7 linked regions of the Homo sapiens genome follow. The protein of the gene in region 1 purifies or fractionates together with the protein of each later gene. This does not show direct contact. Each region holds a gene or a part of one and is shown in the gene's direction. Other genes may lie near its edges. The genes, in order: FLVCR2, PAG1, PFAS, RPIA, EFNA5, PLIN3 and TMEM63B.

Region 1 (4,306 bases):
AAATCCAGCTTTGAGTTCACATCTCAGCTCTGCATTTATTCAGCTGGTGACTTTGGACAAGTAACTTGAGTGGCCTGAGCTTCAGTTTCTTCATTGGTAAAATGAGAAATCATCAGATATTTCTTACAGGATTTTTGTAAAGGTTGAATTGAAATAATAAATGCATGTGAAGTGCTTCACAGAATCTGGCACTCAAGAGATGGAGGGTTTCGTTTGACACAACCGTAGCGTGCCATTTGGTGCCTCCACCATGATTCTGGCTTCAGGGGTGATGTGTAAAGAAAAGCTTTAAAGATTTTGGCCAGGTGCGGTGGCTCACGCCTGTAATCCCAGCACTTTGGGAGGCGGAGGCGGGCAGATCATGAGGTCAGGAGATCGAGACCACCCTGGCTAACACAGTGAAACCCTGTCTCTACTAAACAAACTACAAAAAACATTAGCCAGGCGTGGTGGCGGGCCCCTGTAGTCCCAGCTGCTTGGGAGGCTGAGGCAGGAGAATGGTGAACCTGGGAGGCGGAGCTTGCAGTGAGCAGAGATCGTGCCACTGCACTCCAGCCTGGGTGACAGAGCAAGACTCCATCTCAAAAAAAAAAAAAAAAAGAAAGAAAAGAAAAGCTTTAAAGCTTTCATCATCTGAGTCCTGATGTTCATGGTAGGGGGGCAGAGGGATGTGCAGTGCCTATGCCCTGCCTTAGGTAGTGCAGGGAGAAGAATGCAGGTCGAATTGCAGGAGTCGGGGCTGCATCAGAGTCCTAGGTGGGCAACATGGGAAGAGAACTGCTGGAGGGGCACAGGAGGGGGTGAGACTGAAATAGAAACCAAGACTTGCTGATGGTACTCCTGAGGGGATCGACACAGGGAAATGTAACAGGGAGTGGGCGAAGATAGAGAAGGTTTCTCACATTGGCTTTGGAAGTCAAGCACTCAGTTCAGGCTGAGAGAATATTCTCTCTTAGTTCCTGCTCTCTGGAGTGGAGTAGTTCAGACTCAACAGAAAAAGCTTTGCTGGGCCAGGCGCAGTGGCTCACACCTCTAATTAGAACACTTTGGGAGGCCAAGGCGGGCAGATCACCTGAGGTCAGGAGTTTGAGACCAGCCTGGCCAACATGGCGAAACCCCATCTCTACTAGAAATACAAAAAATTAGCCACGTATGGTGGCGCATGCCTGTAATCTCAGCTACTTGGGAGGCTGAGGCAGAAGAATCGCTTGAACCCGGGAGGCAGAGGTTGCAGTGAGCTGAGATCACGCCACTGCACCCCAGCCTGTGCGACAAGAGCGAAACTCCATCTCAAAAAAAGGACAAAAGAAAAAAAAGAAAAGAAAAAGCTTTGCTGGGTCTGTTGGTCTGTTCAAGTAGGGACAGGAAGAACTTGTAGGTGACAGAGCACATTGCCCAGCATTGTCATGGGTCTTGGGATAAAGCAGACAAGCAGAATTGGACAGCTTCTGGGGTAGTCCTGAATGTCACCGCCACCTCATCATGGCTGATGTTTGTCCTGTTTTTTCTTTTTTCTGGTGAGGGATGGGAGAAGGAGAAAGGGCTTTGCCCTTCTTGTCTGTGGCTAGGACATGACAAGTCAAGGGGCAGATTGATATTGTTGAGTGGGTTCTACAGAAAGGGAACAAAGATATCGTAAGATGGCTTCATACTTTACTAGTCTTACTTACCCTTTGTAGCATTGATCATGATGTAATTAAATAATTTTTTTGTGTGATCATCATCTGTCAGTGTCCATCACCCTCATGGAGAGAAAGTTCTATGAAAGAAAATGTCCAAGAACAAGGCCAGGCCTTGGCTTTGTAAGGCCTGTAATCCCAGCACTTTAGCAGGCCAAGGCAGGTGGAGCACTTGAGGTCAGGAGTTCGATACCAGCCTGGCCAACACGGCAAAACACCGTCTCTATGAAAAATACAAAAATTAGCCAGGCGTGATGCGCACAACTGTCCCAGCTACTCAGCAGGCTGAGGCACAAGAATTGCTGGAGCCCAGGAGGTAGAGGTTTCAGCGAGCTGTGATCACGCCACTGCACTCCAGCCTGGGCAACAGAGCAAGACACTGTCTCTGAAAACAAAACAAAACTCCAAGAACATAGCAGAGGGCTTGACATGCGGCAGATACTTAATAGATGCTTGTGGAATAAATGAATGAATGAGCCTATTAAAGTCAGAAGTGTTTGATTCAATTTCTTTGCCTCTACTTGTAGAGAGACAACCCTGGTAGTCTATATCATGACACTGGTGGGCATGGTGGTGTACACGTTTACCTTGAACCTGGGACACCTGTGGGTAGTGTTCATCACTGCTGGCACAATGGGGTAAGTTTCACCTCTGGCTGATTTATTAGAAAATACCATGCCATGGCTCCCAGAGCTTCCAGCATCCTAGAATGCAATATTGATGCCTTTGCTGCCTTCTAACTGACCTCAGGAGATATGGACATGGTGCCCAGGGGTCTCGGTAATACTTGTAGTACTTCCAAAGGCAGCCTGGGCTGTCTGTTCTTTTGGGATGGAATGAAGCATGAAGCACACCCTTCGCGACCTCTTGGAGGCTAGAACCTGTTCAGAGTCTTTTTCAGTTTTGCCTGGACAACATGGGATTGTGGAAAGTACACAGGGCTTGGAACCAGAGACTCTGGGTCCTGGTCTCAGTTTTGCTGCTGCCTACCTGTTAGACCATGGGCACAGCACTTAACCATTCTGAGCCTCAATTTCCTCATCTGTAAAGAAAGATAATAGTGGCCTGCCTTGTCAAGTTGTTGGACAGATTGAGAAAGATAATAGATATGAAAGCATCAAGAAGCATTGTGAAAATGTAAGAAATTAAAGTTGCCGGGTGCGGTGGCTTAACGCCTGTAATCCCAGCACTTTGGGAGTCCAAGGCAGGCAGATCACAAGGTCAGGAGTTCAAGACCAGCCTGGCCAATATGGTGATACCGCGTCTCTACTAAAAAATACAAAAATCAGCCAGGCATGGTGGCACACACCTGTAGTCCCAGCTACTTGGGAGGCTGAGGCAGGAGAATCGCTGGCACCTGGGAGGCGGAAGTTGCAGTGAGCCAAGATCGAACTACTGCACTCCAGCCTGGGAGACAGAGTGAGACTCCGTCTCAAAAAAAAAAAAAAAAAAAGGAGAAATTAAAGTTGGAATTTTCTAGACCTGTTGTATGAGAAAACATAGGAAACAATACCTCTTTCACAGGAGTCTTTGTTCAGCTCTGCTTCCCAGTTATTTTCCTATGGGCAGTATATGAGTGTTTGTGTGTGTGTGTGTGTGTGTGTGTGTGTCTGTATGTGCATGTGAAAGAGAGAAAGAGGGAGAGAGCATGTGCTGGCACTCAGTCCTCAGCTGGTTCCTCTCTGGATGGAAATAAGGAGGACTCTAAGCTCCTCCTTCCAGGTCCCAGAGAGCCACGGAGATCCTGCTCAATATCCAGGAAGTTCCCACTCCCAGCACAGGGCCTGTGTACCCAGGACATAGTCTCTCAGCTGAAGGTTGAACACACCAGGCATCCTTGCCCCTTCTGTAAATGCTGACTGGCTGTCACTGATGGCAAGATGGAGAAGCAGCAAGGGATCCCAGAGGCCTGCTGAGCACAAGGTCTCCCTGTGAACTTCTTCCTGGCCTTCAGGGGTGCCCGTCTCCTTGGTATGATCACATAGAGGATGCCCAGATCATTAGAGGGCCTAGTATGTCTTGGTGGGAAGAAACAAAACAGCAAAGGGAGTCCTAGGGGAGGAGGTGGGCTCCCCATCCTTCTTGTTCTGGAAGTTCTTCATCCCCTTGTTTCTCTGGTCTGGTCTTCAGCTTCTTTATGACTGGCTATCTCCCACTGGGATTTGAGTTTGCTGTGGAGCTCACGTACCCAGAATCAGAAGGCATCTCCTCCGGCCTCCTCAACATATCTGCACAGGTAGAGCTCGTATTTCCTGTTTGTTTCCTGGCTGGGAAGGCATTGCATCATGGCAGCTCAGTTCTTCCTCATGAGTTAGTTGACTGGGCCCTTGTTTCCTATCTTCTTTATGCCTTTCCAGGTATTTGGGATCATCTTTACCATCTCCCAGGGCCAGATTATTGACAACTATGGAACCAAGCCTGGGAACATCTTCCTGTGTGTGTTCCTTACTCTTGGAGCAGCCCTCACTGGTGAGTTGGAGCCTGAGGGCAAGATGAGGCTCAGGTTGGCCATTTGGGACCCTAGTGTCTCGATGGAGCAACAGATAGGGAGTACGTACGTAGGGGGACAGATGGAAGGGTTTGTTGGGGAATCTGTTGGGAGGCAGCACATTGTTTTGGTAGAATGA
Region 2 (4,306 bases), on another chromosome or scaffold:
GGAAATTAGAACAGGTGAGTGTAGGGAATTTGCTCCAGCCTGGGAGACAGAAAGAGGAAGTCTCCGTGGGGAAATTTGGATGCTGAGAGCAGATTAACTTCAGTAAGTACAGTTCCAGGCAGGAGCTAGGGTCAGACATAGCAGCCAACAAGAGCAGATCGCATATTCCCAAGCACCAGGGTGCAAAATTCACGAGTTAGATTTTCAATGAAGCATTAAAATTGTTAAAGCCAGTATTATACATATAATATGAAATATGTGTATATATACATATTTCATATGTATATATATAAATGTTGAGCTATGCTCAGAGAGCTAAACACCTTAATTGATCTAGCTGTATATAGCTTCTATCTGGAATTCCTAGCAGAGTAAATTGTGTACATGTACAAGAGCAAAGTACATATGCAGGTACATCACTTCCTATAGGACTCTGAGTAAAGCATTAGAATATGGACATAGACACCCACGTTGAATGTTCAAAGAGCAAAAATGCTTTCCCTAGGTGATATTGCCCACCCTCGTCCATGTTTCTACCTCCAGAATGGACCTGCCATCTGTCTATCTGGTTGCACAGACCAAAACCTAGGGGTCATCTCGATACTTCCTTTTCCTCACTGTCCTCCAACACAGTCAATTGCCAAGACCCATCAGTTGCACCTCCAAACTGTTTTCTTTGTGTACCCACCTCCCTCAAGCCCACTGCGGCCGCCCCTCCCTAGGCCAGAGCAGTCCCCTCCTGCTGATCCCTGGCAGCTCCTTGGCCTCCCTCCACTCTGTTTTCTACTCTGCAGCCAAAGTGATCCCATCTGGGACAAGAAGGTAAAATATATAGGAGTTCTGGGAATTAAAGACTATGTAAAATTTTAAATTGCTCCTTATCTTACATTTGTTTGTATTTTTTGAAACAGGACCTAGTTATACTGATGAATTTTTAACATGACAGAACTATGACTCACAGACATTCATTTTAGGACAAAGAGGAAAAATAAATATGAAAGTTTTTTTTGTATTTATGTAATTTAATGTTAAACAGTCCAGACTGAAGCTGAGATCTGAGCTTTAAGTTCTATTACCCCAATTTAACAGAATGTTATGGAAAGGATTGATTAGAAAAAGAAGAGAAATGGGGAAAAGGAAGAGAGTAACTTATGGGAATATAGCAACAATTTACAGACTGAGGAATAATGATGAAAGTTTTAAAGAGAAAAATTGAGAAGCTAAATAGCAAGGGGGCTGGAAGAGAAACCTGTATACAAAATAAAAATAATAGTCATAATGGTCATAGAAAACAGTCAAAAGGAATATGAGAAGACTCAAGAAGCTTTTATAAAAGTTGAAATGTACAGTGAGACCCTCTGCACACTAGGTTCATTCCCAGAGTCAATATTAAATTGCAAGTTAATGAATGAGGACAAAGGCCAAGAAGACCAAGTACTCTTACAAAGAGTGAGGGGCATTAATTACAAAGACCAGGGGGAAGAAAGCTGAGGAGAGAAGCTAACGGTGGTGAGGGGCTGACTCTCATTGTTACAATCTAGGTCAAGGTACATTTGTCCTCCTTGATGTTACCAGGTGATGAATACGCTGGTATGCCGTCTCCCCTCACCATTGTCATCCATTGTTTACCTTTTTATAATCTGTCCACATATAATTTTTGGCTTGGACCACCATTTAGATAATACATTCTGTGTTTGCACTTCCTTATAAACAGCAGTGAATTTTTTTTATTAAATTCAAAGAAATTATAATTCTTGTATTCTGAGAGCAGTTTTTTCATTAAAACCTCTAAGGTGAGAATGTTAATCATTTCATATTCATTAGGATAGTCAGATCAACATAGTAAGAGTTTTCCAAAGACTGTTTTTCTGAACTGTAAACCCTTGGATTGTCAAGGCCTCACCAAACTGAGCCAGCCACCAGCCTGTAATGAAAAGTTCTCATGCAAATGACCAGTTAGCATGTGGCAGGCCTGTCTTAAGAAGCTTTTGAGACATAAGAAGGCCTGTCTTAAGACAGGCCTGTCTTAAGAAGCTGGAAACTTCACCTGCAGTATGTGAGAAAAGTGGAAGCAGGAAAATGTCCCTCAGCCCTTGGGAAGCCAGGCATCTGTGAGGAAGCATGTTCATGTATTTCCTGGGTATTTGAATGAATCAAATCACTGTGATAAAAATAAACACAGGTAATGAAGGGTATTTTTACTTATTTCCAACCGTGATTTTTCACAATAAAATAATACTCCCCAAAAGTCTCCTAATTAGTATATTTAATCTTCACAATGAATGAAATCCCTGTTGATATCGGAGGTGATACAGGATTTATTAGTGAGACTGTGGGGGTGTGCTTGGAAAGCCACTGGCTCTTAATAGTATCCTGTAAGTTGTCATTTCTGACTTGGCTGGTTGCAAGCGAGAATGAGTTTTCCCACTGAAGAAAACTAGACCTGGACTGTCAATGTCTGTTTAACCAGTAATACGCAACTAAGTCAAGAAATAATGGACAGGAATACCCTTTCAGATATATGTGTACCACCAACGAGAATCCAGCAACGGGTGTTGGAGACCACTGTGATGCAGGAAGCATGGAGTAGTCTAATTCAGAGTTCTTATACTTTACTGGCCATCAGAATCAGCACCGGTTGCTGGGCCCCAGCCCCGAGGTTCTGATTTGGTGGTTCTGGGATGAGGCCTGAGAACTTGCCTTTCTGACAAATTCCCAGATCCTGTTGCTGCTGGTTTACAGCCCACACTTTGAGAATCACCGGTCTACTATGTGTTTTCTGTCCTTTTTTGTAAAGCAGTGGAGCCCCTTTTCAGGCAAAATATCATTCTGATAAAGAAATGAAATAAAACACATGCTGTGGTCAGGTCCCCGGGGCCTTCAGGAGCTTCCCACTCCACCTCTCCTCAAATTCCTCGGCAGACCCAAGAGAACTGGGTTTTCACGGAATTAAGGGAATATGACTGATCTAGTTAACATAGTTGAAGATAGTGTGTGTAATTATTCTCTAGTAATGTGCTCCATAATTAGTACAGATAAGAAAGAACAAATCTTTAAGGAGTACACACACAGAAACCCAGGAGTGCTCAGTATGTAGCTTGTCACTAAAAAGAGGGAGGGGGAAGTCACAGCTGGAAGTTTATTCAACTCTCCCTTTGTCTCCTAGATCTCAGCTATGTACTCATCAGTAAATAAACCTGGACAGTTAGTGAATAAATCGGGGCAGTCGCTTACAGTTCCGGAGTCCACCTACACCTCCATTCAAGGGGACCCACAGAGGTCACCCTCCTCCTGTAATGATCTCTATGCTACTGTTAAAGACTTCGAAAAAACTCCAAACAGCACACTTCCACCAGCAGGGAGGCCCAGCGAGGAGCCAGAGCCTGATTATGAAGCGATACAGACTCTCAACAGAGAGGAAGAAAAGGCCACCCTGGGGACCAATGGCCACCACGGTCTCGTCCCAAAGGAGAACGACTACGAGAGCATAAGTGACTTGCAGCAAGGCAGAGATATTACCAGGCTCTAGCAACCCAGAAGACAACCCTGGGTAGCCTGTGATCAGTGTCTGGAGACGTTTCTTCTGTGGAAGAGAAGAAGTGACACAAACCTATACTTCATATGCTGCTTTAGTCACCTGAAGATGGTTGGAGAGGCCCTGTCGACTGTTCTCCCAGTTGTTCAGTTTCTGAGACAGAGAGGTACGGACTAGGCTGCACCTGAGTGTGCCCCTGCCTGCCAGATGGACAGGTACACCCAAGCACATCTCCCTGCTGCACCCTCACCACCCACAAAAGATCCCAGCTGTCAGTGGTCTCATCTCATTAGTGAGGAAAGCCAAGCTGTATGGAAAAGCTGCACTCACCAAGGACCACAATGCCCCCGGCCTAAAGTACTGCCATTCAGAAAAGCAGGTTTTTCTTCCTCTCTTTCCTTTTCTCTGTCTGCTACTGACTTTAAGGCTTTTTCCCCCTTGAAATGTCCAGATTCCTGTGGTTCATCCCAAGGAAATTTTCACACAAAGCTTGGCCTTTGCCCTCAATATAGGTGTTTTAGGATGGTGACAAACCATGGCTGCTGCTTTCTGCCCAGCTCGCCAGTCCTCCCCAAAGAGTTGCGCATCAGCACCTGGGGATCTGGACCCTGCGGGTGAAGGGATGGGGAGGGACGTCCCTGGAGTCTCTTCTGTCTTTGTTCCTTCTTATTTTGGCATTCGATATCAGCAGCCTCTCCCCAAAGTACTTGAAGTCAGTTTTAGATGCTTTATTTTATTTTTCTAGTCAAAAACGTGTTTCCCCCAGTGTTT
Region 3 (4,306 bases), on another chromosome or scaffold:
TTGCCAAATCGTCCTCCGTAGTTGATATCAGTTTACTCTCCTATCAACCCAGTCAAGTGGTAAGGCTTCTGGGCTAGGCAGGGTGGCTCACGACTGTAATCCCAACACTTTGGGAGGCCGAGGTGGGCGGATCACCTGAGGTCAGGAGTTTGAGACCAGCCTGGCCAAGATGGTGAAACCCTGTCTCTACTGAAAAAATACAAAAATTAGCCGGGCACGATAGCAGGCGCCTGTAGTCCCAGCTACTCAGGAGGCTGAGGCAGGAATATCGCTTGAACCCAGGAGACGGAGGTTGCAGTGAGCTGAGATCACACCACTGTACTTCAGCCTGGACAACAGAGCGAGACTCCATCTCAAAAAAAAAAAAGCTGGTCAGGCTTCTCCCTAACATCAGCTTCCTCTGTGTTCACGCTGCCTTGCTTTCGAGGCCTCTTCTCGTGGCTTCCCCAGTGTTCTGATTCTGCCTTCCCTTCTTACAGGCATGGAAGTTGTAAAGGTTGGAGGTCCCGTCTACAGGATTGGAGTTGGAGGTGGAGCTGCTTCATCTGTGCAGGTGAGTGGGAATTGCTAAAGGTGCAGAATCCTTGATATAACCGGGCCCCAGGCATAGGGGAGCGTATAGGAGCTTCCAGTCTCGCTGAGCTGAGCTATGCCATATATGCCCCCAGGTGCAGGGAGATAACACCAGTGACCTGGACTTTGGGGCTGTGCAGCGAGGAGACCCGGAGATGGAACAGAAGATGAACCGTGTGATCAGGGCTTGTGTGGAGGCCCCCAAGGGAAACCCCATCTGCAGCCTTCATGATCAGGGCGCTGGTGGCAATGGTGAGGAAAGGAGTTGGAACAAGAGACTGGGCCTGCCTGGTATCCTGCCAGGTTTCGTTTAGGGAGAGGTATCAGGAATCTCCAACCAACCACCCAGCTCTGGGTCCCATTCTCCATGCTCTGTACATTCTAGACAGGTTCAGGGTTGGAAGGGTGGAAGCCTGCTGCCGTGGGATGATTGGTGGTAAGGGTGCGGCAGCAGTTGACACAGGAACACACCAAATTACAGGCCCCTTTGGAGGCCAGGGACTGCCCTTTGTTGCCTGACCACCACTAGGTCACTGCTTCTCCTTGCAACCCTCTCACCAGGCAATGTCCTAAAAGAGCTGAGTGACCCAGCTGGAGCCATCATTTACACCAGCCGCTTCCAGGTGGGTCTCGTCCCCTGAAGTGTGACATTTTCCCACCCCTGCCAGCCCCAGCCCGCTTCCACCCATCTCTCTTGCAACAACATGAGACGTGGGAGTGCCCACTGGCCCTTCTCTTTCCTCCCCGCCGTGGCTGTGCAGCTTGGGGACCCAACCCTGAATGCCCTGGAAATCTGGGGGGCTGAGTACCAGGAATCAAATGCTCTTCTGCTGAGGTCCCCCAACCGGGACTTCCTGACTCATGTCAGTGCCCGTGAACGTTGCCCGGCTTGCTTCGTGGGCACCATCACTGGAGACCGGAGAGTGAGTTGGCCCAGGGAGTTGGGAGCAAACACTGGGGCAGACATGAGCCACCTGGGTATGGGCTAGAGGGAGAGCTGTCAAGGGAGAGAGACGAGAGGAAGATGGGAGGTAGTGGCAAACAAGCTGTGGGGAATGTTGGATCCAAGGAGGGGCAGGGACTCAATATGGAAACCAAACAAGGAGTGGAAAGCACATTTGTGCCCTGATTTCTAGGAACATTCCTTGCTGGTGTTCATAGTCTCATCCCCTCTGGGTGGGGTCCCTGTGGTCTATAGATAGTGCTGGTGGACGATCGGGAGTGTCCTGTCAGAAGAAATGGCCAGGGGGATGCCCCCCCGACACCCCTGCCAACCCCTGTGGACCTGGAGCTCGAATGGGTGCTGGGCAAGATGCCTCGGAAGGTATGTGGGGTTGAGGGGATGGGTTTTTCCTGTGGTCCTCTCCACACCACCCTTTACCCTACGTGCACTTTGTCGCCTGTGTGCCCAGCCCGCCCCAGGTGTTCACACTGCCTGTCGCTGTCTGTGTTGCAGGAGTTCTTCCTGCAGAGGAAGCCCCCCATGCTGCAGCCTCTGGCCTTGCCCCCAGGGCTGAGCGTGCACCAGGCTCTGGAGAGGGTTCTGAGGCTGCCCGCCGTGGCCAGCAAGCGCTACCTCACCAATAAGGTCCTCCCTGCACCCTTCCTCTGCCCCCTGCCTCCTTCCTCCGCTCAGCCTCTTCTGCCCTCCCACCCTTAGAAAGTGCTGTGGGGGTTTTTGCCTGGCCCTGCAGGAAGCAGCAGGGGCAGGGCAGCCACCCTGATGGCCTGGTCTCCCTGCTACCCACCTTCTAAGTAGAGCTGTTGTCTGCATTGGGGGAAAGACAGGCCTCCCACTGCCCTGAGTGCCTTGGGGGCATGTGCGGGAGCTCAGGCTGTCCCTGTCCCTTGCTCTCTTGCTAACCCCACCTGGTTCCACAGGTGGACCGCTCTGTGGGAGGCCTGGTGGCCCAGCAGCAGTGCGTGGGGCCCCTGCAAACTCCTCTGGCAGATGTAGCGGTTGTGGCACTGAGCCATGAGGAGCTCATAGGGGCTGCCACAGCCTTGGGAGAACAGCCAGTCAAGAGCCTGCTGGACCCAAAAGTCGCCGCCCGGCTGGCCGTGGCCGAAGCCCTCACCAACCTGGTGTTTGCTCTGGTCACTGACCTCCGGGTGAGTTCTCCCACAGCTTCTATCCTGGAGCCCCCGGGCTTCAGGACCCTTCCACATCCATCTGTAGCCCTTCATTTCATGTTGCAACCTCCCAGTCCGCCTGCACCCCTGGCCTCTCCACATTTCTCTTCCCCTCTAATGCTGTGCCTCTGCCACCCCCAGGATGTGAAGTGTAGCGGGAACTGGATGTGGGCAGCCAAGCTCCCAGGGGAGGGCGCAGCTTTGGCGGATGCCTGTGAGGCTATGGTGGCAGTGATGGCAGCCCTGGGTGTGGCAGTGGATGGTGGCAAGGACTCCCTCAGCATGGCTGCTCGGGTTGGCACTGAGACCGTGCGGGCTCCTGGTGAGGTGTGGGAGCCCCAGGGAGGGGAGGAGGAACTATGGAGCTGGGTTGGCAACTCATTCCTTTGGACTCCTCCTTGCTCTACAGGGTCACTGGTCATCTCAGCCTATGCCGTCTGCCCAGACATCACAGCCACTGTGACCCCAGACCTCAAGCATCCTGAAGGGAGAGGTATGGACATGGCCCCATCCTTTGTGATCTTTGCTTGTGTGATCTTTGTTTGGCTCCTGCTTTGTGAGTGCTGGGCCCCCATCTCAACACTGGGCTGTGGTGTTTTCTGGGACTGATTGTCTAGGTGTCTCACCACATGCTGGGAATAGCAGTGCTGTGAGCCCCTCAGGGATGGGTCCTCCTGAGCTGTTCCCCTCCCCTCACCCCTCCCCGTCTCCCCAGGCCATCTGCTCTATGTGGCTCTGAGCCCTGGGCAGCACCGGCTCGGGGGCACAGCTCTGGCCCAGTGCTTCTCCCAGCTTGGGGAACACCCTCCAGACCTGGACCTTCCTGAGAACTTGGTGCGGGCCTTCAGCATCACTCAGGGGCTGCTGAAAGGTGAGTGAAGACCCCTGGGGAGATAGCGCACAGGGTGCCAGGCGTGCAGCAGGCGTTCACCATCTGAGCAGTGGGGCAAAAGGGACTCCAATGGACGATGTACCCCAGATCCCCTGACATTCTGACACACACTCTTGATGGACTGACTCCGGAAGGTGGGGTGGGGCTGTCAGGTTTGGGTCCCGAGGTTGCTGAGCTTTCTTCTCCTTCCTCCAGACCGCCTCCTCTGCTCAGGCCACGATGTCAGTGACGGAGGCCTCGTCACATGCCTGCTGGAGATGGCCTTTGCTGGAAATTGCGGGCTACAGGTGGATGTGCCTGTCCCCAGGGTTGATGGTAAGGAACCTGGGGTCTAGTCTCAGGCCCGGGCTGCCTTCTCTACCCTGCAGACCCCATTTCCAATATATTAAAGAGTGGAGTGCCCTCCAGTCCCCTTTCCCTGAGTCTTCCCTGACTAGCTTTTCTGTGCTGTCTCTCTGACAGCTGAACTGGATGGAACTGGCTGACACCCACCATGTTCCTGACTGCACCCCTCTGAGACTTCCCATCCCTGAGATGTCCATGATGAAACATCCTCAGTCCTGCCGTCCTAGCCCTCATCCTCCCTGATCCCTACCCTACTCTCTGGCTGCATCCCTCTGACCCTCACCCTGGCCCTTCCTGCATTTCCCTGATCCCGCCCCAACTCCCTTGGCCCTTCTTGCATCCCCCTGACTCCCCACATTGCTC
Region 4 (4,252 bases), on another chromosome or scaffold:
TGATAGAGGAGGGGTGGGCAGGAAACCCAATTTAGATGAGGTGGTCACTTAGACTTCTTTGGGAAGGTGGTATTTCAGCTGAGTCAGAAGGGTGGATGGAGCAAGCAATGCACAGATGGCCAGGCTGGCAGGTAGAGCATTTAAAATGGTTCAAAGGTCCTCAGGCCGGGGGTAATGGGGTAAAGCAGAGACTAGGTAACATTTACTTCATGAATCTTTTGGTGTGGGTGCTGAGGAGCATGAATAAGGTGAAAGACTCCTCCTAAGGAGATACATTAAAGGTGACATATTTGCCTAGAGTAGCCTTCAACTTTGCAGACCAACAGTAGTGGGAGTCCAGACATACTGTTCTGCATGTTAGCCAGAACCTTTTGCTATGTTCTGAATTTGGCCTAAAATGAAGGATTCAAATATCATCTCAAACAACTTTTCCTCCTACAGACTAAGGTGAAGATTCAAGAGCTCACGGCCTCAGAGGGCAAAGCATAGTTAAGAAAATCTAGGTGATAACCGGCAGTTAACAGTGGCCCATACCAGTGACTTGCGCTCACGGAAGAGTTCTGAAGGCCTGGAATGCGTTTGAAGATGAGTTCATGAGCAGACAGAAAGGATTCCACTAACAGCCGAGAAACACAAAGGTCATGTGTTTTTAGGGACCTCCAAGTGGTCGGTAAGGTTGGGGTCAGCATTAGTTTCTTTGCCTGTAAAATGGGGGCAATAAGAATTCCTCGTCCCTTAACTATTCTCAACAGCAAGAAACCTTAAAGGTAGAGAAGAAAAGATAAATCTGTTTTCACAGAAAGTCCTTGTTAGTCACGAAGGATTGCAGGATCGCTGCAGGGCACACTCATATGTGCAGAACCAGTCTCCAAATGGGCGGAGCAAGGTGCAGCTCCACCTGCTTCACCACTAGGTGCAGAAGAATGTCCACGGCAGGGGGTTCTCAACTTGTGACCTTGGGTCTGCGGGGGTCTAGATGGACTTCAGCTGGCGCCGTGTCGCATGTGAGTTTCCTGGGCTGTAGTAACCCCAAAAGGGCCGCGTCGTCTACAGAAGTGCCACTACTTGGAATTCTTGTCCATGGCCACGTTCTCACTGCTGGGAGAAACAACAGGGTCAGGTCTAACACTCCTTTCTCGGATGCATGGGCGAACAGAAATATCCCTGGGCTTCACCTAGCCGTGGCCTAAGTACACTTCCCCAGGGTAAGGAGTCACCATACTGATATTCCCGCGGCTAATGGTACTTCACAGAGCGAAGTGCCGGAGCCCGTCGCCGGCGATTGCGCATTCCGTCGCGGAGAGCATTATGGGATTGGTAGTCCAGACTGAGGCGCAGATAGGGGTTCCTCGAAGCCACAGAACTACATTTCCCAGCAAGACCCGCGCAGCAGGGCACGCAGACTGTGTGCGTAAGCGACCAGATTTCCGGGGGAGCCGGGGGCGGGACTTCAGCGGAGGCCGGAGCGAGGCGTCGGGATGCAGCGCCCCGGGCCCTTCAGCACCCTCTACGGGCGGGTCTTGGCCCCGCTGCCCGGGAGGGCCGGGGGCGCGGCCTCCGGCGGAGGAGGGAACAGCTGGGACCTCCCGGGTTCCCACGTGCGGCTGCCGGGGCGTGCACAGTCTGGGACCCGTGGCGGTGCTGGCAACACAAGCACCAGCTGCGGGGACTCCAACAGCATCTGCCCGGCCCCCTCCACGATGTCCAAGGCCGAGGAGGCCAAGAAGCTGGCGGGCCGCGCGGCTGTGGAGAACCACGTGAGGGTGAGCACTTCGAAACGTGGGGCGCGGGGCGCATGTCCTTGGCGTGATGGGCTACTGTTGCGCGTTGTGGGTGCTGCCGGGGCGCGCCTAGCTCCTGGCAGGGCGGGAGCTGAGTGAGAGGGTAGAGGGTGTGCACTTTACCCGAGTTTAGACCCCTCTTCCCTGCTCCTTAAAGACCTTTTAGATGTGGAATCGGTTGGGGGCGAATCTTCTAATACTTGAGCTTTCTAAAGACTCCTTGTCCAGCTGGAACAGTTTGCAAAGTGGAGCCTGGTGCTGTCTGATGTTTGGAATGGGGGCTAGAGGCACTTGCCTTGTGGCCTCCTTATCAATAAATGGAAAATGGTGGGCTTTGGGGCTGCGGAGAGGTTTTCATTTCTCTTTACTGACCCGGAAGCCGGCGGAGAGTTGGTTTGCTAGTGCTTTGAAATTTCAGTCGAAGGAGGTTCTGGGCTTGGTGCGCGCCGGCCCCTGAGTGTACTCTTGGAGGGAAGGGAAGACCCGGGGCTTCAAACTTCCTTCTTTCCATAGGGCTGGGTGGACTAAGTCTGGAGGATGCTGGTTTATTTTTTAAGGCGGGTCTGCAGAGATGTTTAGCTGTTATTCAGTCAGGTCGTGGTCCCTACTTGTTTGTTAAGTGGCAGGTGTGGTGCTGTTAGTGGAGTTTTTTTAATCCAAGTGGTTTTGCTGTCACCAATCAAGTATCTTAATTATAATAAGGAAGCCAAGTGGAGTATGTCTGCCCTGTGGTGTAGTTTCCTTGGTCTTATTGGCTTTTTATCTCTCGTTTCTACTTATTAGAAAGTGGTATTAGAGTCTCTTTTCTTCTCCGATAATAGTTCTTTACATTTGTTAATGCTTTACAAAATTATTTTGCTTAGATGATGTTGGATGAGCTTCACCACAGCCTGTTTGAGTGGGAGTGGACAATGTGGTAACCTGTGGCTCAGCCAGTTCTGTAGAAGGGATGTTCCAGTGTGACCTTCTACTCTTTCCACTGCTACCCTGTTCTGGTGTAGCTTGTTGTAAGTCTGATTGGCAATAGGATTTTCTATGGGGATTAACAGAGATAATGTAAAATGTGTTAATTTGACCCTACCTTTGGGATTCAGTGCCTCCGTTGTAAAATTGAGACAATAAGCTGAAATTTCAAAATATCTGCATACAGTGAATAGCTAATAGATAAATGTAATCCACATGAGAATACAATTAGAAAAGCCCCATATCTAAGTTGTCCTGTTAATGAATTTACATTAATATTTGGTGGCGCATCTCCCTGACCTTTGTGTTATAGTCATGTATTTGATTAAATAAAAATCTGCAAGCCCTGACCTTAGGCTAGAGCCCCAAAACACTGGATTCTGACCACATCATTTCATGAAGTTAGGTAATTTTGGGGAGATCTACAGTGACCTTTTGGGGGCACCTGTTAAAATCATATATGCCCTTCAGGGTTTGGCTTAAAGGCCATTTCCTCCTTTCAGTTTTTCCTTAGCATCCTAAGGAGAGGAAGATTTCTCTTCCGTGATTCTGTAGCACTTCATGCCTCTTATGTGCTTTATGTTGTATCTCATGTTTTGGTCATCTGTGTGTTCGTTTCTTCCAGCCCCTTAAAGGGTAAGCTCCTGGAGGGTAGTTAACCTTCATTTAGCATTGGTCACAGTGGGTCCTGCCCAGTACATGTTTGTTCAATTGTGTGCAGTGTGGACACAAATACGAAAGTGTTGGGGTTATTGGAGGTTCTTTGTGTAGAATCTCTGGGGAGTAGGGCTTCCTGTTCTCTAGTCCATTGGAGTTCCAATATGGTGACCACTTCCGTGTCTGAGTGGATGGAAAACATGGAGAGTTCTCAGGTGAATCCTTTGTATAGCCACCTTGGGCCCAGCTCTGTCTGTTTCTGTGGGTGTAGCCACCCAGGATGGGTCGACATGCAGAACTAGGCTCTTCTGAATGTCTGTAGCCTCATCCCTTTGTTCTCTTTGGAGCCTGGGCTTTGTTTTTTTACTAGCTTGGTTGAGGAAGCTGATGGGCAGTGGTTCTAGTTGGTTAGCAGAAGTAGTATTTCCAAAGTTACTCCATTCGACAAGCTGAGTGAAGTTCTGATGTTGCACATACATGTGGTTTAATATTGCCCATTAGAATGGGGCCACTCCTCTAGCAGGGCCTGCTTGGCAGTCTTCTGCTGTTGGGCCACCTCATAGGCAGCCTTTGGTCACCTCTGGTTGGCTTTGGCAAGGGCACTGATTTCCTGGGCCAGTCATTTGATTCCAAGGCAGCAGGGATCACATGGGTGAAGAGCTTTAGGTCTGGCAGGGCCTTGCAATTCCTGGTCTCTTTCAAAAGGCAAAGAACGAGCCTTATACAGAGCTTGTCTGATTCATCCGAATTCACCTCTGTGCCACCTGCCTGCTGGGGACTGTGAGTGACATGAATGTATGGCTAAGCTTGGTAACCAGGAATTTGGTGATTGAATTACTGTAAAGCTAGAG
Region 5 (3,500 bases), on another chromosome or scaffold:
CTTTTTTGTTTGCTTGCACACTCTGCCTGCCAGTTTCCTATCATCAGGGATGCAGGATGATCTCAGGGCAGACATATGCCACATAACATGCTCCAAAATATCGCTAGTGTTCTCTCCGTTAACCATTGAAACCCCCATGTTGTGGAATCCTGTAGCCAGGAGGCAAAACTTGATTTGACTTCTGAAGAGGAACGTTTTCTTTCTTCTTCCAAGCCTGTGTTACAAGCGTTAGAAATTCTCTCATGTTTAGGTGTAGTTTCCATTGGGATAGATTTTACCTATGAATTCCTCCTTAGAATTCTGAAATTGCTCAGATTTACCCAAATGACAGCCAGTTTCTCATTTCACATTTGGGGGCTGTAGAATCTTCCAACATTGAGAACCTGTTTTAATCAAAGGATGCTTTGTGGAATCCTGAATGAGGAACAGCATGTTGCAGGAAGAAGAGAAGGATCCTGATGCCCTAATGGGACTGATTTCCTTTTGGGGGGCAGGAAGATATATATTCGTTGGGTGCTTATAAAAGGTTAATTCCAAAGATTGTGTATGGTTAAAGGACTGAAAGTCACACTTAGCCTCATACTTCACTTAGATGAAAAACAAAAGCCTTCCTCTCCATTACCTTGTAAGATCTATTCCTTGTGTCTTGTGCTGAGTGGACCTGGAATAATGGATAGCCCTCACTGAGTACCTAGAAGGGACTAGGGTGGTGATGAAGGGGTTCACACCGAAGATCTAAGTGCTAGCTGGGTACCTTTAACAGTACACTTGCAAGCTATACAAGGAGAAGGATTGGGTAATATGCTAGTAAAAATAAGATGGAGAGGAATCCAATAGCTGATGCAATTTCAGGTGTTTAAGTATGTGATATTGTGAAATGAACTCTGGAATCCTCAGGGTTTGTGGTTATTTCACAGTTAAGCCTGAAGTGCTCCATTGTTTTGATTGACAACATATTGGTGCTCTTAAGAAAGTGATTTGGATTTTAATTTCAGGGCTATTAAGGGCCTTTACTTCTACTTCCTATTAACTACAGATTTAATTAATACACTTGCAAGGCTGAAAAAGAGCAGAGAATAGAAGAGGGTCTGAAGGTACTTGGCCACATTGTGGAGGACTTTATATATATTTTTTCTGCATCCATTTATCTTACCATCTTGCTTCCTAACCTTTTCTAGTCTCCTAAGCTAAAATCACTCCATGCAGATTCGCTAAGGTCCAGGAAAGGGGAGCACATTTGACAAGGGGATGCAGTAGCTTTTATTCGAGGGGAGGCTAAAATGGTAAGAGCACTCCAGGTCAGGAGACTCAACACTGAGAAGACCTTTCTCATTGGGAATGGATGTGATGGACAAAACCATCCCAAACGAGCATATCTGAAGCAGGGGTCAGCCTGTGAACCTGAAAAGTGGTTACTTTAGGACAAATATTAGCGAGTGTGATTCTACCCAGTGAAGGAAAAGCACCCTTATTGTGACACGTGTGGTAGGAAAATACAAATGAGTTTAAAATAATGGTTAGTTAACCCATTAAGGGGTTTGAGGTGGGTCATCCAGGGGTATTTAGGGATTATCCTTTGAGGTCAGTATAATTGAGAACAACCACTAGAGCCTTGTTACCATTCTGTCTGGCCCTTGAGCAATTCCCAGATGGCAACTGCTGAACACCTGCAGGAAGTTACCCTGATGCTGAGATAAAATTTGCACAGGGGCTCACTATTGGCCCCCAAAATGTGTTATTCAGAGATCCTTAGTCTAAAAGCACAAGTGGCCAGGTATAGTGGCTCATGTCTATAATCCCAATCCTTTGGGAGGCCAAGGGAGGAAGTTGGTTGAGGCTGAGTTTGAGACTAGCCTGGGAAGCAAAGGAAAACCCTGTCTCTCTAAAAATTCTTAAAATTAGCCAGGCATCGTGGTTCACACCTGGAGTCCCAGCTACTCGGGAGGTTGAGGCAGGAGGATTGCTTGAGCCCAGGAGGTCAAGACTATAGTGAGCTATGATTGGGCCACTGTACTCCAGCCTGAGCAACAGAGCAAGACCTTACCTCTAAAAAAATATTAATTAATTTAACTTAATTAAAAGTAAATAAAAGCATAAGTTAGGTCAGGTGGAAAGAAGAAGACAGGCAGCCCTGGAGCAGAGCTTGGCTCCTAGGCAAGCCTCCAACCTCTCTTTGGTACTAATTGCTTCAGAGTTCCCATTTGGAAGTTAAGCCTGTTAATCATGCAGATCAGGAAGGCTATCCAAAGTCAGAGGCAGCCTCATAGAACACTTTATAGCTAAATAAAAGAAGCTTAACTCACTTAATCTATTTTATTTAGAGGAAAATTTGCATCCACGCTGATAATTTATGTGCCAAGCTTCAGCCCGATAAAAATAAAAATAGTCAAGTTCAAGTAATTTAATCTTAGAAATACAGGGTTTGTAATAGAAATAGCACCATAATTGACACCTAATTGCAGGCAAACTAGTGGGCATACGTTTATTGAAGTTTACTAGGCATGATGTATAGTTTATCCAAAATGCTGCTGTTTTGGCATTTAGTTTTTCATGTTTGAAAATTCGTCTAGGCATCCAACAACCAGGCATTCAACACTAATCCTATGAAACAGCTAAAAGAAGGGAAATGGGCAGCGCATTCTGGTTAACCACTACTGTGCCAACATAACTGCCCCTTCCCCCACCCCCACCAACATGTCACTTGCTTGCCTGTGACATCTTAGGTTTCAAAGGTACATTCAGATATCTGAAATTTGTGCAAGGCGTGTCTGACTGCTGGCTAACCAAAGCAGCTCACAGGCCAAAGGTTACGGTGTATGCATAATTTTTCCCCTCAATTTTTAAGGAAAGTATTAATATTGCTGAGAAAGTCCAATTTTCTTTGCCTCTTCTTTGTTTGCTGTAAATAATGAGTGATTATGCAGACATGAAAGTCAATGGTGGCACAAGGTTCATTACCCTACTTTGCAGAGGGTGGCGAGGTCTGTTAACAGCAGGCTGCTGCAAGAGAGTTATTAAGGATGTGAAATCTCATTGGAATGTGTGCTTTCTATTTGAACAGATGACACCGTACATGAGTCAGCCGAGCCATCCCGCGGCGAGAACGCGGCACAAACACCAAGGATACCCAGCCGCCTTTTGGCAATCCTACTGTTCCTCCTGGCGATGCTTTTGACATTATAGCACAGTCTCCTCCCATCACTTGTCACAGAAAACATCAGGGTCTTGGAACACCAGAGATCCACCTAACTGCTCATCCTAAGAAGGGACTTGTTATTGGGTTTTGGCAGATGTCAGATTTTTGTTTTCTTTCTTTCAGCCTGAATTCTAAGCAACAACTTCAGGTTGGGGGCCTAAACTTGTTCCTGCCTCCCTCACCCCACCCCGCCCCACCCCCAGCCCTGGCCCTTGGCTTCTCTCACCCCTCCCAAATTAAATGGACTCCAGATGAAAATGCCAAATTGTCATAGTGACACCAGTGGTTCGTCAGCTCCTGTGCA
Region 6 (4,306 bases), on another chromosome or scaffold:
AGGCTGAGGCAGGAGAACCGCTTGAACCTGGGAGGTGGAGGTTGCGGTGAGCCGAGATAGTGCCACTGCACTCCAGCCTGGGTGACAAGAGCAAAAACTCTGTAAAAAAAAACAAAAACAAAAACAAAAAACTTGACTCTCACACCCTCTTCCCCCACAAAAAGATGAACTCTCATGAGTACAAGAGGACTGAGTCTTCAGGGAAGCACCAACTTGGGTAGGAATGGGGCAGGTGTGGTTTTCAACTTTGCGGAGAGCCCTCTGCATAGAGATCTGTCTAAAGACTTAGCTTCAGCTGGACACAGTGGCTCATGTCGGTCATCCCAGCACTTTGGGAGGCCAAAGCAGGAGGACTGCTTGAGGCCAGGAGTTCGAAACCAGCCTGGGCAACATGGAGAGTCCTTGTCTCTACAAAAAATAAAAAAATAAGCCGGGTGTGGTGGTGCGTACCTGTAGTCTCAGCTACTTGGGAGGCTGAGGTGGGAGGATCGCTGGAGCCGAAGAGGTCAAGGCTTGAGTAAGCTATGATTGCACCACTGCACTCCAGCCTGAGTGACACAGTGAGACCCTGTCTCAAAAGAAAAAAAAAAAAAAGACTTAGATTCGAGAACAGCAGGTATTGACAGATGAGCGCTCACCATGTGCTGGGTGGGGCGTAGTCAAAGGATTCCATGCAAAGCTTTTTTTTGTTTGTTTGTTTTTGTTTTTTTTTGGAGACAGAGTCTCTCTCTGTCACCCAGGGTGGAGTGCAGTGGTGCAGTCTCGGCTCACTGCAAACTCCACCTCCCGGGTTCAAGGGATTCTCCCGCCTCAGCCTCTTGAGTAGTAAGGATTACAGACATGCACCACTGCACCCGGCTAATTTTTTGTATTTTTTGTCTCTACAAAAAATAAAAAATAAGGCTGGGCGCAGTGGCTCATGCTTGTAATCCCAGCACTTTGGGAGGCCCAGGCAAGTGGATCCCCTGATGTCAGGAGTTCAAGACCAGCCTGGCCAACATGGTGAAACCCGTCTCTACTAAAAATACAAAAATCGGCTCGGCATGGTGGCATGTGCTTGTAATCCCAGCTACTTGGGAGGCTGAGGCAGGAGAATCACCTGAACCCACGTGGCAGAGGTTGCAGTGAATCGAGATTGCACCATTGCACTCTAGCCTGGGCAACAAGAGTGAAACTCCGCCTCAAAAAAATTAATAAATAAATAAAAATAAAAGATAAAAAATAGCCACGAGTGGTGGTACGTGCCTGTGGTCACAGCTACTCGCTGGGGAAGCTGAGGTGGGAGGCTCACTTGAGCCCAGGAGGTGGAGTTTGTAGTGAGCCGAGATTGTGCCACCGCACTCCACCTGGGTGACAGAGGGAGACTCCATCTCAAAAGAAAAAAAATTAAATTGAAAAAAAAAAACAAAAAACAGGCAGAGTGCAGTGGCTCATGCCTGTAATCCTAGCACTTTGGGAGGCTGAGGTGGGCGGATCACTAGGTCAGGAGTTTGAGACCAGCCTGACCAACATGGTGAAACCCCATCTCTACTAAAAATACAAAATTAGCCTGGCGTGGTGGCGCATGCCTGTAATCCCAGCTACTCGGGAGGCTGAGGCAGGAGAATCGCTTGAACCCAGGAGGCGGAGGTTACAGTGAGCCGAGATCACACAATTGCACTCCAGCCTGGGCAACGAGAGTGAAACTCCATCTCAACAACAGCAACAACAAAAAACAATTAGCCAGGCATGGTGGCGGGCACCTGTAATCCCAGCTGCTTCGGAGGCTGAGGCAGGAGAACTGCTTGAACCCGGGAGACAGAGGTTGCAGTGATCTGAGATGGTGTCACTGCACTCCAGCCTGGGCAAGAGAGCAAGACCCTGTCTCCAAAAAAAAAAAAGAAAGAAAGAAATGAGGTACAGGGAGGTAGAGTGACTTTCCTGAAGCCACACAGCTGAGAAGTAGCTAGCTAGGAACGGAGCCTAGGTAGTCTGGCTGCAGAGTATGAGGTCATGCCCACAACTCCAGACTCAGGGTCACCTGGGGGATGGCGCTCCCTGCCTCAGTCTCCCTGGAAGTTGGGGTGCAGGGGAGGGGTGCCCACATACAGAGGGAAGACGGAGATGCTGGGGTCACCCGGGGGATGGCGCTCCCCGCCTCGGTCTCCCTGGAAGTTGGGGTGCAGGGGAGGGGTGCCCAGATATGGAGGGAAGGCAGAGATGCTGATGCTGTTGCATCTCCTAGGTCCTGGCGGACACCAAGGAGCTTGTGTCGTCTAAGGTGTCGGGGGCCCAAGAGATGGTGTCTAGCGCCAAGGACACGGTGGCCACCCAATTGTCGGAGGCGGTGGACGCGACCCGCGGTGCTGTGCAGAGCGGCGTGGACAAGACAAAGTCCGTAGTGACCGGCGGCGTCCAATCGGTCATGGGCTCCCGCTTGGGCCAGATGGTGTTGAGTGGGGTCGACACGGTGCTGGGGAAGTCGGAGGAGTGGGCGGACAACCACCTGCCCCTTACGGATGCCGAACTGGGTAAGTGTGGCCAGCGGGCTGCTCTGGGACCCCTCCCCAGGCCCCCTGACCGGAAGCCGCTGTCGGCCTCCTGGGGTCTGTGCCGACACTCACTGCCGCCTCGTCCCTGCCACTTCTCCCGGGCATCTTGGAATCTCATCACTAACGCAGTCCCCTCTGTCCTGCTCACCAGCTCCCGCCCTCATCCACCACAGTCTCCTCCCCACAGCAGCCACCAGAGGGCGCCTGTGACCACCTGAGTCAGAACCCGTCCCTCTGCCCACAGCCCTCCATGGACCCCACCTCCCCTGGGGTCAAAGCCCAAGTCCTCGTCACAGCCCACAAGGTCCTGCACAACCTCCCCTGTCCTCTCCCCGCCCTCCTCCTCTTCCCCCTTCGCCACTCCGCTCCTGCATAAATACGTGACTAAACTTGAGATCTCACTGAACTGTGACAACAATGCTGGTGTTCCCGCCAGGCCAGACATCCCACTCCAGTCATCTCGGTCACATATTCGCACTCCCTGCACTGTTTATTTGATATTCTTCTTTAATTAATTTATTTATTTATTTAGAGACAGAGTCTCGCCCTGTCACCTAGGCTGGAGTGCAATGGCGTGATCTCAGCTCACTGCAACCTCTGCCTCCTGGGTTCAAGCGAGTCTCCTGCCTCATCCTCCTGAGTAGCTGGGATTACAGGCACCTGCCACCACACAGCTAATTTTTTGTATTTTTAGTAGAAACGGGGTTTCACTATGTTGGCCAGGCTGGTCTCGAACTCCTGACCTTGTGATCTGCCCACCTCGGCCTCCCCAAGTACTGGGATTACAGGTGTGAGCCACCATGCCCGGCCCTTTTTTATTTATTTGTTTTAGAGATAGAGTCTCACTCTCTTGCCCAGGCTGAAGTGCAGTGGTGCGATCATAGCTCAATGCAGCCTCCAACTCCTGGGTTGAGGCGAGCCTCCCATCTCAGCCTCCGAGTAGCTGGGACTACAAGCACACACCATCACGCCCAACTAATTTTTCTTTATTTAATTTTTGGTAAAGACGGGGTCTCCCTCTGTCATCCCAGCTGATCCAGAACTCCTTGGCTGGAGTGATCCTACTGCTTTAGCCCCCCAAAGTGCGGGGATTGGGATTTTTGCAAATAAGTAGCTTAGGATATAGGCAGGGCGCGGTGGCTCAGCCTGTAATCCCAGCACTTTGGTGGGCCGAGGTGGGCAGATCACCTGAAGTCAAGAGTTTGAGACAAGCCTGGCCAACATGGTGAAACCCGGTCTCTACTAAAAATACAAAAATTAGGCCGGGCACGGTGGGTCACGCCTGTAATCCCAGCACTTTGGGAGGCCAAGGCCGGGCGGATCACAGGTTCAGGAGATCGAGACCATCCTGGCTAACACAGTGAAACCCCATCTCTACTAAAAAAAAAAAAAAAAAAAAAAAAAAAATTAGCCGGGCGTGGTGGCGGGTGCCTGTAGTCCCAGCTACTCGGGAGACTGAGGCAGGAGAATGGCATGAACCTGGGAGGCGGAGCTTGCAGTGAGCCGAGATCATGCCACTCCACTCCAGCCTGGGCAATAGAGCTAGACGCCGTCTCAAAAAAATAATAATAATAAAATAAACATTAGCCAGGTGCGGTGGCAGGCGTCTGTAATCCCAGCTACTTGGGAGGCAGAGGTTGCAGTGAGCCAAGATTGGGCCGCTGCACTCCAGCCTGGGCGACAGAGTGAGACTCCATCTCAAAAAAAAAAAAGCATGGGTACAGTAGGAGCAGGATTAAATAAATACATGCAGCTGGGCGCAGTGGCTCATGGCT
Region 7 (3,039 bases), on another chromosome or scaffold:
TCACACTTTGGGATGTTTAGCAGTACAAGTTCTGGGAACATCTCTAAAATTTCAGGCTTTTATTCAGAGATGTAACTGTGGAGTTCTGTATGGGCATCTTCTCTGGGAATCATGTGAGGATATATTGAAGGTCATGCACCATGGCTGTGGGCACAAACTCTAGGGGTTTTGCTGTAGGCCATCTGTGGTGATCTTTGAGTCACACTTGGGGCATCTCAGGCACTGATAAAGGTTCCTGGGCTCCCCCAGAGATGTTGCGGGAAGGGTCTCAAAGCTTGTTTGTGGAGGTATCTGAGGCTCATGTCACACTCTGGGGGTAACTCGAGTTATGGTCTAAGTGGGGGAATCTTCTGGGTGTTCCTGGGGCTGTCAGCCTTTGGGTTCTTTGAGGGTCTCATTGGGTTGTCTTTGGGGGTCCTGGACAGTTCTCCCCTGAACATTCTAGCAGCCTTAGGTGGTCTTGAGCACTCTCTCCATGGGTCTTTATGGGGCACAAGTTCTTGGAGCTGTCTGTTGCCACTCTGTATGTCTCTGGGGGGAACAGGGCACAGGTGCTTGGGGCGCTAAGCTGGGGGTGTCCACATGGAAGAAGCATGTTGGTGGTGGAGGTGTTGGGTGCTGTAGTTCTGGCAGTGGGCGGGCGGCCACCGGGTCACCCCAAGGGTGCAGTGCTGGAGCACCTGGTGCCCGCAGGTGTGTGTTCCTGCCCGACAACGGCGCCTTCTTCGTGAACTACGTCATTGCCTCAGCCTTTATCGGCAACGCCATGGACCTGCTGCGCATCCCAGGCCTGCTCATGTACATGATCCGGCTCTGCCTGGCGCGCTCGGCCGCCGAGAGGCGCAACGTGAAGCGGGTACGGCCGCCTGGGGCAGCAGCGGCCCGCACAGCGCCCCCTGGTGGCCCAACAAGAAACAGCAGCCATCGCGCTAGGGTTGAGGGGCACAGGAGGGCTGAGACTTGGGGAGTACAGTTGACTCACGGTGGATCCGGGCCATCCCCTTCCCATATCTGGGGCCTTCGTATTCTGCCATGGGTGGACATAGGTAACCCTGAAGGCCCCTGCCAGTTCTGACAGTAGCATTCTATGATGGGAGTTGGGGAGATCTGGGTCCCTAGCGCTAGGGTCCCTCTGTCTTAATAAGAGGGCTCTGGGCATCCCACTCTCAAGTCCACCCAACTCTTGCCCCCTACCTGCCAGGCCCCGACCCTTGAAGGCCCCTCTCCGTGCCCCATCACTGCAACCGCCCTGACCCTCCTCTCGGCCATAGCCCCTCTCTCCATCTGCTCTGCCCTACCCTACCCTAGACATTAGGTCCTGTTCCCCATGGCTTCTTTTCCGGCCCCAGAGGTCCTGGCTCCCTTCCCCCTCCCTCCTTCCCTGCCCCTCTGGTCAGTCCCTGCCTCCCTGAGCCATCCTCCTGCCCGTCTCCCCCCCAGCATCAGGCCTACGAGTTCCAGTTTGGCGCAGCCTACGCCTGGATGATGTGCGTCTTCACGGTGGTCATGACCTACAGTATCACCTGCCCCATCATCGTGCCCTTCGGTAGGCACCGCCGCGCCGGGACCTGGGCCCTGCTCGGGGGGACCCAGGACTTCACCCTCTCCACTCTAGGAATGCAGGCCACCCCGAGTGGACAGGGCCCGGCTGGGAGACCGGCCCCTCGGGGCTCCCGCCCGGTCCCTGGCTCAGTCTGGGGCCTGGCCTGTGGGGAGGAGGGGGAGAGCCATCAGCTCAGGCCAGACCCAGCTGGCATGTGGGCCCCAGGGCAAAGTCACACCAACATGGCCATACTTACCCACACCTGTGCCTTCCCTCAGCGGGATGTGCTTGGACACAGATCACATACGTGCTGACATGTTCACACACACACTCCCACACAGGCATCCATGTGCACACTTTTACACCACCCTGTAAACTCAGGAAAGACTTGGATTCCAGGGTGGGATGGGTCCTTGCCACTCATGGAGATAGTCTGCTGTATCTGAGCTATGTGACTTGGCCAGGTCTCTCTTCCTTTTTGAAGTTTAGCAAAGTTTCTCTTTAACCATCACCCCCACTGGTAGCCTCTACTTTCCTCCCTAATAACATCCTAACTCCTTAACCAACCCTCCCTGGTTATTGAAGGCTCCAAGTTCCCAAACTAACTTCCTTGTCCTCATTAGAAACTCCCTATCCCTCAGCCTCTGGGGAAATAGAACTTGTCCCTTAATTTATACGTATCTGTTTAGGGACAGGGTTAGAGAAAAATGATACGGGTTTTAAGAAGATGCTTGTTGATTCAAATGACTAGATTTCCAATAGTAGAATTCCTGATGAGGAGAGTAGAATGAGGGGTTGTAGCGGAGGAAGCTGAAGTTCTGTGATCACGCTGGGGCACGGGGCACTATCCCGTCCTGGGGCCCGGGCAGGAGGAGGGGGCCAACCCTTCAGCACTCTCAGGACCAGAACAACCTGTGACAGACACACAAAAGGTTCGGCAGCACTGGTTCCGAGGTCAGGGCCCATGTGGCTTCCCTTAGGGCTCATGTACATGCTGCTGAAGCACCTGGTAGACAGGTACAATCTCTACTACGCCTACCTGCCGGCCAAGCTGGACAAGAAGATCCACTCGGGGGCTGTGAACCAGGTGGTGGCCGCGCCCATCCTCTGCCTCTTCTGGCTGCTCTTCTTTTCCACCATGCGCACGGGTGAGGGATCCCTACCCAGGGAACGGGGGGTGGCGAGCAGAGTGGATTCCAGCCAGAGCAGGCCACAGGAGAAGCCGCATGGCTGGGGGTGGCAGGCAAGGGGCCTGGGAGAGGCTGGGGCCAGTCTGTAGCACCTGGGAGAGTGAGGACTGCATTCAGAGGGTATCAGAAGCTGGGGTGGGGAGGCCCACAGGAGATAGCAACCCCATTCTTTGCCCCCCAACACCAGGGTTCCTAGCTCCCACGTCTATGTTCACATTTGTGGTCCTGGTCATCACCATCGTCATCTGTCTCTGCCACGTCTGCTTTGGACACTTCAAATACCTCAGTGCCCACAACTACAAGGTG

The links.
Region 2: the proteins of FLVCR2 (region 1) and PAG1 purify together in Homo sapiens (affinity purification with mass spectrometry; one large-scale study listed by BioGRID and IntAct). This does not show direct contact.
Region 3: the proteins of FLVCR2 (region 1) and PFAS fractionate together in Homo sapiens (co-fractionation; one large-scale study listed by BioGRID). This does not show direct contact.
Region 4: the proteins of FLVCR2 (region 1) and RPIA fractionate together in Homo sapiens (co-fractionation; one large-scale study listed by BioGRID). This does not show direct contact.
Region 5: the proteins of FLVCR2 (region 1) and EFNA5 purify together in Homo sapiens (affinity purification with mass spectrometry; one large-scale study listed by BioGRID and IntAct). This does not show direct contact.
Region 6: the proteins of FLVCR2 (region 1) and PLIN3 fractionate together in Homo sapiens (co-fractionation; one large-scale study listed by BioGRID). This does not show direct contact.
Region 7: the proteins of FLVCR2 (region 1) and TMEM63B purify together in Homo sapiens (affinity purification with mass spectrometry; one large-scale study listed by BioGRID and IntAct). This does not show direct contact.

The regions. Positions count from the first base shown.
Region 1 is NC_000014.9:75,637,146-75,641,451, forward strand, and holds part of FLVCR2 (choline/ethanolamine transporter FLVCR2), read left to right. Parts: intron 1-2,206; coding exon 2,207-2,317; intron 2,318-3,809; coding exon 3,810-3,915; intron 3,916-4,036; coding exon 4,037-4,148; intron 4,149-4,306. UniProt on the Homo sapiens protein: Choline uniporter that specifically mediates choline uptake at the blood-brain-barrier. Responsible for the majority of choline uptake across the blood-brain-barrier from the circulation into the brain.
Region 2 is NC_000008.11:80,975,767-80,980,072, reverse strand, and holds part of PAG1 (phosphoprotein associated with glycosphingolipid-enriched microdomains 1), read left to right. Parts: intron 1-3,166; coding exon 3,167-3,529; 3' UTR 3,530-4,306. UniProt on the Homo sapiens protein: Negatively regulates TCR (T-cell antigen receptor)-mediated signaling in T-cells and FCER1 (high affinity immunoglobulin epsilon receptor)-mediated signaling in mast cells.
Region 3 is NC_000017.11:8,262,441-8,266,746, forward strand, and holds part of PFAS (phosphoribosylformylglycinamidine synthase), read left to right. Parts: intron 1-479; coding exon 480-553; intron 554-668; coding exon 669-825; intron 826-1,134; coding exon 1,135-1,196; intron 1,197-1,334; coding exon 1,335-1,496; intron 1,497-1,771; coding exon 1,772-1,897; intron 1,898-2,029; coding exon 2,030-2,161; intron 2,162-2,454; coding exon 2,455-2,685; intron 2,686-2,847; coding exon 2,848-3,028; intron 3,029-3,115; coding exon 3,116-3,199; intron 3,200-3,421; coding exon 3,422-3,577; intron 3,578-3,793; coding exon 3,794-3,913; intron 3,914-4,060; coding exon of another isoform or gene 4,061-4,083; exon of another isoform or gene 4,084-4,306. UniProt on the Homo sapiens protein: Phosphoribosylformylglycinamidine synthase involved in the purines biosynthetic pathway. Catalyzes the ATP-dependent conversion of formylglycinamide ribonucleotide (FGAR) and glutamine to yield formylglycinamidine ribonucleotide (FGAM) and glutamate.
Region 4 is NC_000002.12:88,690,221-88,694,472, forward strand, and holds the start of RPIA (ribose-5-phosphate isomerase), read left to right. Parts: upstream 1-1,452; 5' UTR 1,453-1,478; coding exon 1,479-1,763; intron 1,764-4,252. UniProt on the Homo sapiens protein: Catalyzes the reversible conversion of ribose-5-phosphate to ribulose 5-phosphate and participates in the first step of the non-oxidative branch of the pentose phosphate pathway.
Region 5 is NC_000005.10:107,380,938-107,384,437, reverse strand, and holds part of EFNA5 (ephrin-A5 isoform 1 precursor), read left to right. Parts: intron 1-3,061; coding exon 3,062-3,183; 3' UTR 3,184-3,500. UniProt on the Homo sapiens protein: Cell surface GPI-bound ligand for Eph receptors, a family of receptor tyrosine kinases which are crucial for migration, repulsion and adhesion during neuronal, vascular and epithelial development.
Region 6 is NC_000019.10:4,850,220-4,854,525, reverse strand, and holds part of PLIN3 (perilipin-3), read left to right. Parts: intron 1-2,224; coding exon 2,225-2,510; intron 2,511-4,306. UniProt on the Homo sapiens protein: Structural component of lipid droplets, which is required for the formation and maintenance of lipid storage droplets. Required for the transport of mannose 6-phosphate receptors (MPR) from endosomes to the trans-Golgi network.
Region 7 is NC_000006.12:44,151,153-44,154,191, forward strand, and holds part of TMEM63B (mechanosensitive cation channel TMEM63B), read left to right. Parts: intron 1-693; coding exon 694-856; intron 857-1,440; coding exon 1,441-1,546; intron 1,547-2,523; coding exon 2,524-2,691; exon of another isoform or gene 2,692-2,825; intron 2,826-2,920; coding exon 2,921-3,036; intron 3,037-3,039. UniProt on the Homo sapiens protein: Mechanosensitive cation channel with low conductance and high activation threshold. Osmosensitive cation channel preferentially activated by hypotonic stress.